Regions from separate parts of the Homo sapiens genome. Here region 2 is linked to region 1. The links come from fine-mapping of genetic effects on gene expression. A gene starts in region 1. The other region holds a variant in brackets. All regions are shown on one strand. Distances are from middle to middle. Region 1 holds the start of MAGEH1 (MAGE family member H1). Region 2 holds the start of USP51 (ubiquitin specific peptidase 51).

The links. PIP is the estimated chance that this variant, and not a neighbour inherited with it, causes the effect. A credible set is the group of variants that fine-mapping cannot tell apart.
Region 2: its variant is the best candidate, but not a certain one, in a credible set for the expression of MAGEH1 in blood mononuclear cells (TOPMed, PIP 0.65).

What each region holds. Positions count from the first base shown.
Region 1 is chrX:55,450,048-55,455,418 of GRCh38, reverse strand. MAGEH1 (MAGE family member H1) reads right to left here and starts at 3,292. Exons shown (of 1, transcript NM_014061.5): 1 at 1,853-3,292. The coding sequence starts at 3,044. The coding sequence ends at 2,385. MIR4536-2 (microRNA 4536-2) reads right to left here and starts at 3,924; the gene lies at 3,837-3,924. It overlaps MIR4536-1 (microRNA 4536-1), which reads left to right and starts at 3,837; the gene lies at 3,837-3,924. RefSeq lists enhancers at 2,830-2,879, 3,030-3,079.
Region 2 is chrX:55,487,668-55,493,038 of GRCh38, reverse strand. It overlaps USP51 (ubiquitin specific peptidase 51), which reads left to right and starts at 3,191. Exons shown (of 3, transcript NM_201286.4): 1 at 3,191-3,263; 2 at 3,674-3,870; 3 at 4,051-5,371. The coding sequence starts at 4,100. It overlaps LOC101928692 (a long non-coding RNA gene), which reads right to left and starts at 4,098. Exons shown (of 2, transcript XR_244468.5): 1 at 3,993-4,098; 2 at 1,526-3,174. RefSeq lists silencers at 2,999-3,108, 4,429-4,508 and enhancers at 3,499-3,598, 3,819-4,258, 3,776-4,635. The variant G/C (reference allele first, on the strand shown) is at 2,937.

The DNA.
Region 1 (5,371 bases):
TTTTTACTCTGCAGCTCTCCCACTTACTAGCTGACTGACCTGGGGCTGACTGACTGCTGTAAGCCCCCTTGGGTAAAAGGGCGGGTCGGGGGAGGAATGTAATCCGGCCTGGTCCCCAGAAGGATTGGATGCCGCGGCCAGGGTTACTCACACCTCTTCCCCTGCCTTCACGTGGTGTTTCTTTTGAGGACAGAGACCTTGAGAGTGCACTAGCAGGCAGAGACCGGCAGCAGGGTGGCCTAGAGGAAAGCACTGTGGGTTTGCAGGGAATGGACATAGGGTCTTGTCTAGGATCTCTCTCTTGCCACTTCTGTGGCTCTAGAAGAGAAAGTCACCGAGGAACCTGGACCTCAGATTCCCACCTTGTTTACCTCTGGAGGTGGTATTGATAAATACAGCTCCTCCCAGGGCAAAGAACAGGCCTTTTGATTTTCTGCAGCTCCAGTTTCTAACACACTGTCTGAATCCCAGAAGGCGCTCACCATTTTCTGGCTTGCTGAATGAATTTGGAGCTGCTGATGGGGTCATAGTTACTACTTTTGTTTGAAGCCTCCTTGGCCTGCAAGCTGAGGAGAGTGGGTCCCTGGGCCTTCTCCAGAAGGTCATTTGCTAGCCTACCCTGCACCTAGTGACGTTACTTTGCACACAGCTGGAAGCAGCGTGAGCCTGGATGTCAAGAAGGAAGAAGGTAGCCTGACCACTCTTTTGTGTGTTATAGCTGCTACCATGAGCCCCACAGGGCTAGGTTGGGCACTTGTCACTAGTGCTCCCCAGCAGGGGACCTAGTTCATGCAGTGCTTAGCTCTTGGAGAAAAGGTGGTAGGATTTGCGCCTGATCCCACATGACTTAGTATAGCATGGGCCATCGTGCCAGGTACCAATCCGGACTTACTCCATTGCCCCTTTGCCCCCTTGGACACACACACTTTTAAACAATGTGTGCACCCTAACGAACCATAGTTCCTGAGAGAAGTGCAAGGTTACCTTTCGGAGATGCCACAGGTGGAGCCTTTTCTCTGGCTCATCCAGTATCTCAGAAGTTCTGCTTTTTTATAGCCTTTTCTCGAATTATTTCAGGGTTGTTATTATTAACCATTTTTATTGTCATTAGTTTAAAGTCAGCCACAACACCCACCCTTTGAGGGTCTGCCCCGCTCACTTCTTCCCTTGCCTCATTCCTTGTTCTCCACTTTCCCCTTCATATAACCTTAACAGTTCGGTGAAGAGTTTATTTCCAAATGTCCACGCTACCTTCAGTGCCTCCATTTTTACTCCCTCCCCTTCTTCTCTATTATTTCCAAACCTCAGATTGTCCCCTCACCAAGATTTTCTGACGGTCTCATCTTTTTTTATTTCTGAAGTACCCCATGACAACCTTTTCCCCTGCAACCACCCCTTCTCTCTGCCCTCCTCCTCTCAAGATGATTTTTGTGTATTTTCTACTTCCGTGGCAGGCACCCTGTGATGTCCTCTTCTTTTTGCCAGTGCTCCCTCCCCTATGCTGGGTGGAGTATCCAATCAAATATCTAATACATAATATTTTCATCATATATTCTGATCGTATATTTCAGTCCCCCCCAAACTTATTTAAGTGTCTCTTGAATTTTCACACATCCTATGGTGCTCCCTTCCCCGGCCCACTCCCCAAGACAGGTCACATAAGGTTTTTTACATTTTCATGGCACTTCAGGCTCGTTCTCTATCCCAGCATTTACTGCACTGCCAGTTTACCTATTTTTCTTTCCCACATAATCTAGAACATTCTTTGGACCTGGAGGATGTGTACTAGGGAGTATCCCTAGAATCTAGACTGGTGCCTCACATAACAGGTGGTCAGAAAATGCGCAAGATGTACTATTCGTTAGGCTTTTATTTTTCTCTATGTTCTGCAGTAACTAAGGAAAATCATGGTAAATGTCAATCTTCACACAACAGCAGACACAAAGGGTTTCAGAAACGTCAGATATGAAGAAATCCTCCATCCTTCTTCAACATTTTACTGGGTATTTCAACTTCAAAAGAACAGCTTATTTCTATAAGTGCTGTACAAGATCATAGATTATGATGGAACGACTTCATTTTAGAACGTTAGCAAAACTGTTATACTAAATGTCAATGACAGGAAACAAAGAAAAAAATTTGTTCAATTATATTTTTAAACATATTGTTATTCTCAACAAACGGAATTTTAAAACGAATACAATTTTCCATTATCAAAAGCAAACACTCTATTTCGCAGTTGAACAATGATCACTGATCACAAATATCAAATACAGTGTCCCCCGCCCCCAATCGACATCATTTTCAACTTAGGACCCTGGCATCTACTCCTTGGGGTACCTGTGACTCTCTTTTACACCCCCAAGGGTCTGCCTCAGATCTACTTAAGGGGCGGAATAACCCCTAGCACCTGAATTGAGGATAGCCTCAACCTCTGCATCATCGTCCGAATCCCAGTCATAATTACAAGGCCAGTCTTTAGAGCATCGGTTACGAACCCTTGCCACAAAATGCATGACTTTCAGTTTGCTCGATTCCACGTGTGCTCGGGGCCCCCAGAAGAACTCATACTCCACCGGACTGCTACGGGGCACCGGTTTATAAATCAGGTACCCTCTGCGCACAAACTCTTCTGTGACGATCTTCTTCGGATCTCCAAAGATGCTGTGCTGACGTCCAGGCTGCATTCCTAACTTCCCCAGCACTTTCCAGACCAGAGCTTCCTTGGCGCTGTTGCCCATGATGAAGATGAGCGCTAATATAGACATCAGGAGACTTTTCTTGGTGCCCTGAAAATTGCTCCGGGGCACTGAAGGCTTTTGTGCTTGGGCAGTGCTCGAGGCTTCTTCAGGGGTGGTAGAGGCCTCCTCTGGAGTGCTCGGGTCTTCCTCGGGGCCGCTCAGGTCGTCTTCGGGGGTGCTCGCTACCACAGAGGCGGCCATAGGGGTCTCGGAGGCCTCTGAGGCCTGGATTTTGCGATTGTTGCGGTTCTCTTCTGCGGCTCTCGCATTACGGCGGCGCCGACTCTTTCGTCCCCGAGGCATGTCTCCTGCTAGAGGCTCAAAGCTTACAGCAGTCCTAGGGAAGGATGCTTGTAGCCTCTTCAGGAAGCAACAGCTTTATACCGTAAGAAGCTGCTGCCGCTGAAGCTACCAATGTCAATAGAGTCTTTGTAGCAATAAACAAGCCGTTCTCAGCTACAAAGGGTAGTTCCCACGCCAGCTGACTTGCGCGAGCAGCCGCCGCCAGCACTTGCCGCAGCTGCAAGCCCGCGAGAAAGCTCAGCAAAATTGGCCCCGCCTCTCCTGCCACGCACACTCCTAGCACCAAAGAGGAAGTAGGCTGGTCCTCCACAGGGACTTCCGCTAGCAGATAGGAAAAGGGGCAGGCAGCGACAGGGGTGGGACAAGGGCAGAAATGACAGCTAGAGATTGGAGGGGCCTGGAGTTTGCAGAAGAGAAAAAAATAGCTTAAAGTTTCTGTATTTTCAGCCTACTACAAACATTCCAAGATTGGCTCGACGGTCTAGGGAAGGAGTGCGTCGGCTCCATTCCCACTGACGACGGGCTGTGTGTGTGTTGGGGGTTGGGAGGCCAGGGGTGGCGGGAGGGTGTATTCTTGGAAGGAGTCAGCTGTCTCCAGCCTTCCTTTCCTGTCTTGGCTTACACAGCGCGTTCATTCACTCGCCCTGTTTTCAGAAGGCATTTGTGTGTATACTAATCAATTTGTGGTCCCATGTAGGACCCGGATAATATTGTTATGGCAGATGTGCTGGATGATGTGAGGAGATGGGACTGCAGAAACAAGCAGGGTGAAAGAGGTGCAGAGCCTTTAAAATGTGGTAGATATATGCACGATATATATACTGCCCTGCTTTTATACATACATACATACATACCTATATCGTGCATATATCTACCACATTATGTTTATATACAGTGCATATATCTACCACACATATATGTATGTATGTATGTATGAAAGCAGGGCAGTGACAGGATCAGAGGAATTGCATTTGTGCAGCCTCTCAGAAAAGCAAACTGTTTCCTGGCAGACCACATAGGAAGCAATTGGAATAAGAAGCACTGGGAACTAAAGTATGCCTTAAGGCTGTTGCCATGGGGATGGAGAGGCAGAAAGACATTTTAAAGGTGACCGTTGAAGGGCTTTGCAGACAGAATGGATGAAGTGGGGAATGTGGAGGGGATGATGGAGTTCAGATTGGCTCCAAGGTTTCTAGGCTCCAGTCTTCCTGGACTCCTGATTTATTTTGCTTCTTTCAGAGCATACTCTGAACTTTATCCACTGCTTGCTTTTGCTCACTGTTTGCTCTGCCTGACCTGTCTTCTCAGCCTTCTCCAACTATCTAAATTCCATTTGACTGCTCACAGACCTGTTTCTCCCTGAAGCTTGTCTTGATCTGCCCAAAAGGGTAATGAGTCCATTTTTACTCCATTGAGGAAAGCCCTATAACTAGCACTCTATATCTTTCTTATGTCATTCAAGGTATTAGTTTAAGCAAGTCACTTCTCTCTAAGCCTGTTTTCCCATCTATAAAGTGGGGCTAAAGTACAGCCCTCATAGGGTTGTGAGAATTAAATGAGATAAAAAATGAAAAGCATTTATTACATGGTAAGCACAGATTTTGCCTCTCAAGGTTTTCCAAGCGGTGTGTGAGTGTGGCATTTAATAAATGCGTGCTGAAGGAATTCATGATGGAAAAGATTTTATAGGTGTTCTTAACTGAACTCTTAAGAAACAAATGAATACTTTATGCCTGTCTTGCTGAAATTTTCTTTATAATTAGAGCCCACCGAGACCTCCTGTTGGGTAAGTTAGCAATAAATCAATTTGGTCAAGCAAAGAAAGCACCTCTCCAGGACACAGAGCACTCTTGAGCCAGCCCTCCGTTTGGGATAACCTTTGCACGCGTTCTGGGACATGACCTACTCAAAACAGTAGTCTGGCTCCATCTGCTGTCCCACATTCTGAGAATTCTCGCAGTTTCTGGTCCATTGATAATTGCTCTGAATTGTTTTTCAGTACAGGTATGAACTTATTTTACTGTTTCCAGGAATTTGGGTCTTGCATGGAAGTCTATAGCATGTACAATCCTACCCTCATGAAACAAAAATGGGAGGATTACTTTTGCAGTTTATTTGCTTGTTTTTAGCATGAATTTTTTTTTACTGCGACTTAATCTCAAACGTAGGGCAAAGAAGAGAGATTAATATTATAAACACCAATAGCTAGCTGTATAAAATTTAAATATTAGGCCCTACTTACTGTTTATCTTTTATATATTGGATATGGCAAAACCCTCCTATTACGTCTTCCCTGACCCACTCTGCTCTCTCCTTCCCCACTGTGC
Region 2 (5,371 bases), 38 kb before region 1:
GGCTCTTGGGCCTCGGGACACAGACTGAAGACTACACTGTTGGCTTCCCTACGTTTGAGGCTTTTGGACTCAGACTGAGTCACTACTGGCTGCTTTCTTCCCCAGCTTGCAGACGGCCTATCATGGGACTTCGCCTTGTGATCATTTGAGCCAATTCTCCCTGATAAACTCCTTTTCATATGTATACATATACGTGTGTGTGTGTGTGTGTGTGTGTGTGTGTGTGTGTGTGTGTGTGTAGGATACATATATCCTATTAGTTCTGTCCCTCTGGAGAACCCCAACTAAAACACCTACTCTAGGGGATGTTTTGAAATGAACATCCAAGGGCAAAGGGAAGGCAATGGACTGACAGGCCGCATGTTTTCACATATGTAATCTCATGTGCACGGACAATACAGAGGCTTCTGTGGTTGAAGTGCTGGAGCCCACAAAAGCAGAAAATGAAGCTGAGGTTGGACCTACTCAGGGGTGGGGGTGGGGGGGAGTTGGAGTAAGTTGGGCAGTTTCCATTTTAACCAAGAGACCACAGGGAGTCACCATGGGTCTGTGGGCAGGAGAGGGCACACTCCAGTGGTGTCTGAGGCTGTTGCTTCAGAAGGTTGGAGGCAGACCAGCTACGAGCTGGAGCACAGGAAGAAAAGGAACAGAAGAGGGGATCCATCCAGTGAGGGGACAGGGGCAGGAGGCTGGGCAGACAAATGTGGGCCCCAAAGGACTGGAACCCAGTCCATGGCACCCTCCCTGCAGCCCTAGTCAGGGGCAGGTAATGGCTCCAAGTCTGCCCTTTGGGATGCTGGCCTCTGAGAAGCGAGGTCATTGAGGGGAAGAGGCCCAGATTGGGAGAAAGAAGGCTGTGTGAGGCTTCAGGGGTCCAGTTTTCAAGGTACTGAGCGAGCCACCAGGAGCACAGAGGCAGGCTTTTTCCCAATCCTGCTCTTTCATACACCACCCCACTCCCAAAGGACCCTGCCACACCTGCCACAGCTAGAATCTGTAAGAGACGCCAACATAACACAGGCCTGGGAAACCAGCTCCATCAGACATGGCTCCTGCTACCAAGGCCAGAGTGCCTTGACCTGGGCTTCTTTACACATTATCCCACAGTAGTGGTTCTCAAAGTACCATCTCCACGCCAGCAGCATCCGCATCAGCTGGTACAGCGTTAGAAACCTAAATTATTGGGCCTCACCCAACCCACTGAACTGGGAACTTTGGGAGTGGGGTCTAGCAGTCTGTTAAGTCCACCAGAAGGTTAGACGCAGCTTCATTTTGGAGGAACCAGTGAACTCCAGAAAGGCCTAAACCATGCAGACCCATTCATTTTCATTTTGACAGTAGTGACCCATCACGCTGTCCTGAGGTTTTCCTACAGGACAATTGTCAATGAAGAAATCGTTTGTTTGGTCACGATAGCGTGTGGGCTGATTTAAAGGCGTGTCTAGCTCAATAACAACTGTTTTCAGAAACTTTTTGAAGCACTGTAACAATCCCACCTCCCAAATATTAAGTTGTTGATTACGAGTGGTTTTTAGGCCTTTATTAACTAACATTAATCTTCACAGCACATTCCTATGCATTTCCCGATGTGGACCTCAGGCAGGGACTCTGGCTTACTTGCTTTTGTGCCCAGTTTTGTTTGGCTGTATATTCATAGTGCCCAGTGCAGCAGTAGGTGCTCTTTACATATCTGCTGAATAAACCAATCTAGGTAGGGCTGGCATTCTCATGATTCTGATTTTGCACAGGAGAAAGCGAAGGCTCAGAAGACAGAAGTATTTATAAATTGTGCCCTGCCTCCCTGCCTGCATAAAGGGTGCAGGGCTGTCTCAGAGCAGCTGGGATCCAAGCCACAGGTGGCACAGCTAGCAAATGACTGACTCAGCATTTCCTTCTAGGGCTGCTAACCCAGAGTGGAGCAACTCTTTGCTTAGCTGTGGCTGAGAAAATGCCCTTCCCTAGGGGAGAAAAAGCACGTTTTCCTGCACAAGCCAGTCTATAATTCCAAAGCACTTTCCCTCCGGGTGCTAGTATGTGACTGAGATATGGTCGAATCTAAACCAAGTCACAAAATCAGTGATATCCATTGTGCGGAGGTATCCACTAGATGCCACTGCCAAGTTAAGAGAGCTGAATCCTAATCGTGAGGTTTTGAGGGGAGGTGTGTGACTTTCTCAGAGAGATTAAATGTAGCATTAAACATCCGCTGTAATAAACCGTAATTTTCTTGGGATTGGACCGGAAGGGCAACAAGCCCTGGAGATAGCTTTCCTCCGGGTTGTCGCCTTGGATGCCGGATCTGTCAAAGAAAAGGAAAAGTCTCCTGGCGTATGGACTTCAGGACACAAACAGTTGTATCTTGTGCTTCTCCCAGCACAATCTAGCGCTATAATGCACCTATGGCATCTTTGTTGAATACATGCTCCTGTATATGGACTGCCTAGGATGGATGATCGGGTGAACTGAGCCATAACTTTGAGAGAGCTTTGAAAGAGAAAGGCATTCTCTTCTCCTCTACTCTGCATCAGGAGTTGTTCTCTATGCTGATTTTCAGGAGCGGACTGAAAAAAGAGGTGTGACAGATAAAGCTCGCCAAAAAGGTCTTTTACTTGATATATACTATGACTCAGTGTTCACATTGGGCTAGGGTTATTATTTCAATTTCTCTTTAAAAATTGACACAACTAAGGCTCAGAGAAGTTAAGTGTTTTATCCGAGGTCACACAGCAAGCATGTGCCTGGGCTCAGGTCTCTCTGAGCCTGAGCCCTTGCTTATGCTTCCTCCCCTGCACATTCTGGGATAATCTCTCTCTCTTTCTCTCTCTCTCTCTCCCTCCCTCCCTCCGTCAACTCCCAGAGACCAGGCTCTGACAGGATCCTGAGGGATTCCTGCCAGAGGGTTGCCATCTCTGGAAGCCCCCACCCCCACGCCGGGT[G/C]AATCTTTTTTTCTGTGGAGTGCGGGCCTGGAGCTAGGTGAGGCCTGAGCCTCCATTTCAGGGGCTTTCTGTAGAATCTGTTGCTGCTGTTGCCTCCAGCAGAGTCTGTTTCAGGAAGAGGTTTGCCTGCCTGCGCGGGACAGCGGTGCCATTCATCACTGCAGGAGGGCAGAATCCGGGGTTGGGGGCCGCACGTCGAGAGGGGAGGGGCCAGGGGGCGGCCCCCTTGTGACCAGCCCTGAGGAGAGGTCAGGAGAGAAGGCTGGCTGAGGAGCGCCTGGACAGCAGCAGTTGCTGACGTTCTATATCACGCGCCTGGGGCCCAAGGTAACCCAGACCTTTAAACAAACTGCCGGGCTGGGGGTGTTGCGGGGGCAGGAGAGGGAAAAGGGAGCGGAGACTTCGGGGGTCGCGCGAGGATAGTGGTGGCCATAGAGGTGGCAAATGCGTGAAGGGAGGGAGTAGTAATCCGAATTCTAGGAGAAATCATAGGAATTGAAGTCGCAGAAGCAAGAAAAGGGGTGTGAGAGCACAAGCGCGAAAAAGCGTGAGAGGGCGCAAGAGCTGGGTGGACCGAAAGTGCGCTGAGGGGCAACGGCTTAGAGTGGAACACACCGGGTCACAGAAGTATAGGTTAGGTAGAAACAGAGGGACACTTTCTTCCTGTGAGTTCATTTTCCAAAAGTGCGTCCTTTCAGCCATTTTGGAGAGAAAATGTTGACCCAAGTGTTTTTTAGGATACAGGGAAAGAACGTCAGAGGAAGCTGCACCAAAGCGAGGCTGCGCAGGGCGCAAAAAAGCAGTCAGAGGGTGGCGCCTTTTTTAAAGAAGTTTCCATCCTTTCTGTCCTAAAGCTCAGGCCGTTCCCCACCCCCACCGCTCGCTAGCCTTCTGTTCCCAGTCCCCTGGCATGATCTGATCGCCTTTGAAGCAGGTAACCGCCTCGGTCTCCCCATCAGCTCCAGGGGCCTCTCAGTTGAGTGGGTGGAGCCGACAGAAGCCGCGGGCTGAGCTCAAGGGCCGATGGGAGGGGTCCTGGGGGCGCTAACTGCGCACCGCGGCCATGACGCTGGGCAGATCATTCACAGAAGTCTCTGTCTCCTTTCATCTACAGTCGCAGCTGTTTTCCAGACGCCTTGCTCCTCAGGTCGGGGAGTGATCTGATGGCCCAGGTTCGAGAAACTTCTTTGCCCTCCGGCTCTGGGGTCCGCTGGATCTCCGGAGGTGGGGGAGGAGCCTCTCCTGAGGAGGCGGTTGAGAAGGCGGGGAAAATGGAGGAGGCGGCGGCGGGGGCTACGAAGGCGTCTTCGAGACGTGAAGCCGAGGAGATGAAGCTGGAGCCATTACAAGAGCGTGAGCCCGCGCCGGAGGAGAACTTGACGTGGAGCAGCAGCGGCGGCGACGAGAAGGTGCTCCCTTCAATCCCCCTTCGCTGTCACAGCAGCTCCTCGCCCGTTTGCCCGCGCCGCAAGCCCCGCCCTCGGCCCCAGCCCCGGGCCCGCTCCCGCAGCCAGCCTGGGCTCTCGGCCCCACCCCCGCCTCCAGCCCGGCCCCCGCCCCCGCCGCCACCCCCGCCCCCACCCGCACCGCGGCCCAGGGCCTGGCGTGGATCCCGGCGCAGATCCCGGCCTGGGTCCAGGCCTCAGACACGGAGAAGCTGCTCTGGTGACCTAGACGGGTCGGGGGATCCTGGCGGCTTAGGGGACTGGTTGCTGGAGGTCGAGTTTGGTCAGGGTCCCACAGGCTGCTCTCATGTGGAGAGCTTTAAAGTAGGTAAGAACTGGCAGAAGAACCTGAGGTTGATCTACCAGCGTTTCGTTTGGAGTGGGACCCCAGAGACTAGGAAACGTAAAGCAAAGTCATGCATCTGTCACGTATGTAGTACCCATATGAACAGACTCCACTCTTGTCTCTCCTGTGTCTTTTTTGGCTGCTTCACTGAGAAACATATTCACAAACATGCAGAAACAAAGCAGCACCATTTAGCTGTAGACCTTTATCATGGGGTCATATATTGCTTCATGTGTAAGGATTATGTATATGACAAAGACATAGAACAGATTGCCAAAGAAACAAAAGAAAAAATTTTGAGATTATTAACTTCCACCTCAACAGATGTTTCTCATCAACAGTTTATGACATCAGGGTTTGAAGACAAGCAATCAACCTGTGAGACAAAGGAACAGGAGCCAAAATTGGTGAAACCCAAGAAAAAGAGAAGAAAAAAGTCAGTCTATACTGTAGGCCTGAGAGGGCTAATCAATCTTGGGAACACTTGTTTTATGAATTGTATTGTCCAGGCACTTACCCATATTCCTCTACTGAAAGATTTCTTCCTCTCTGACAAGCACAAATGTATAATGACAAGCCCCAGCTTGTGTCTGGTCTGTGAAATGTCTTCGCTTTTTCATGCTATGTACTCTGGGAGCCGAACT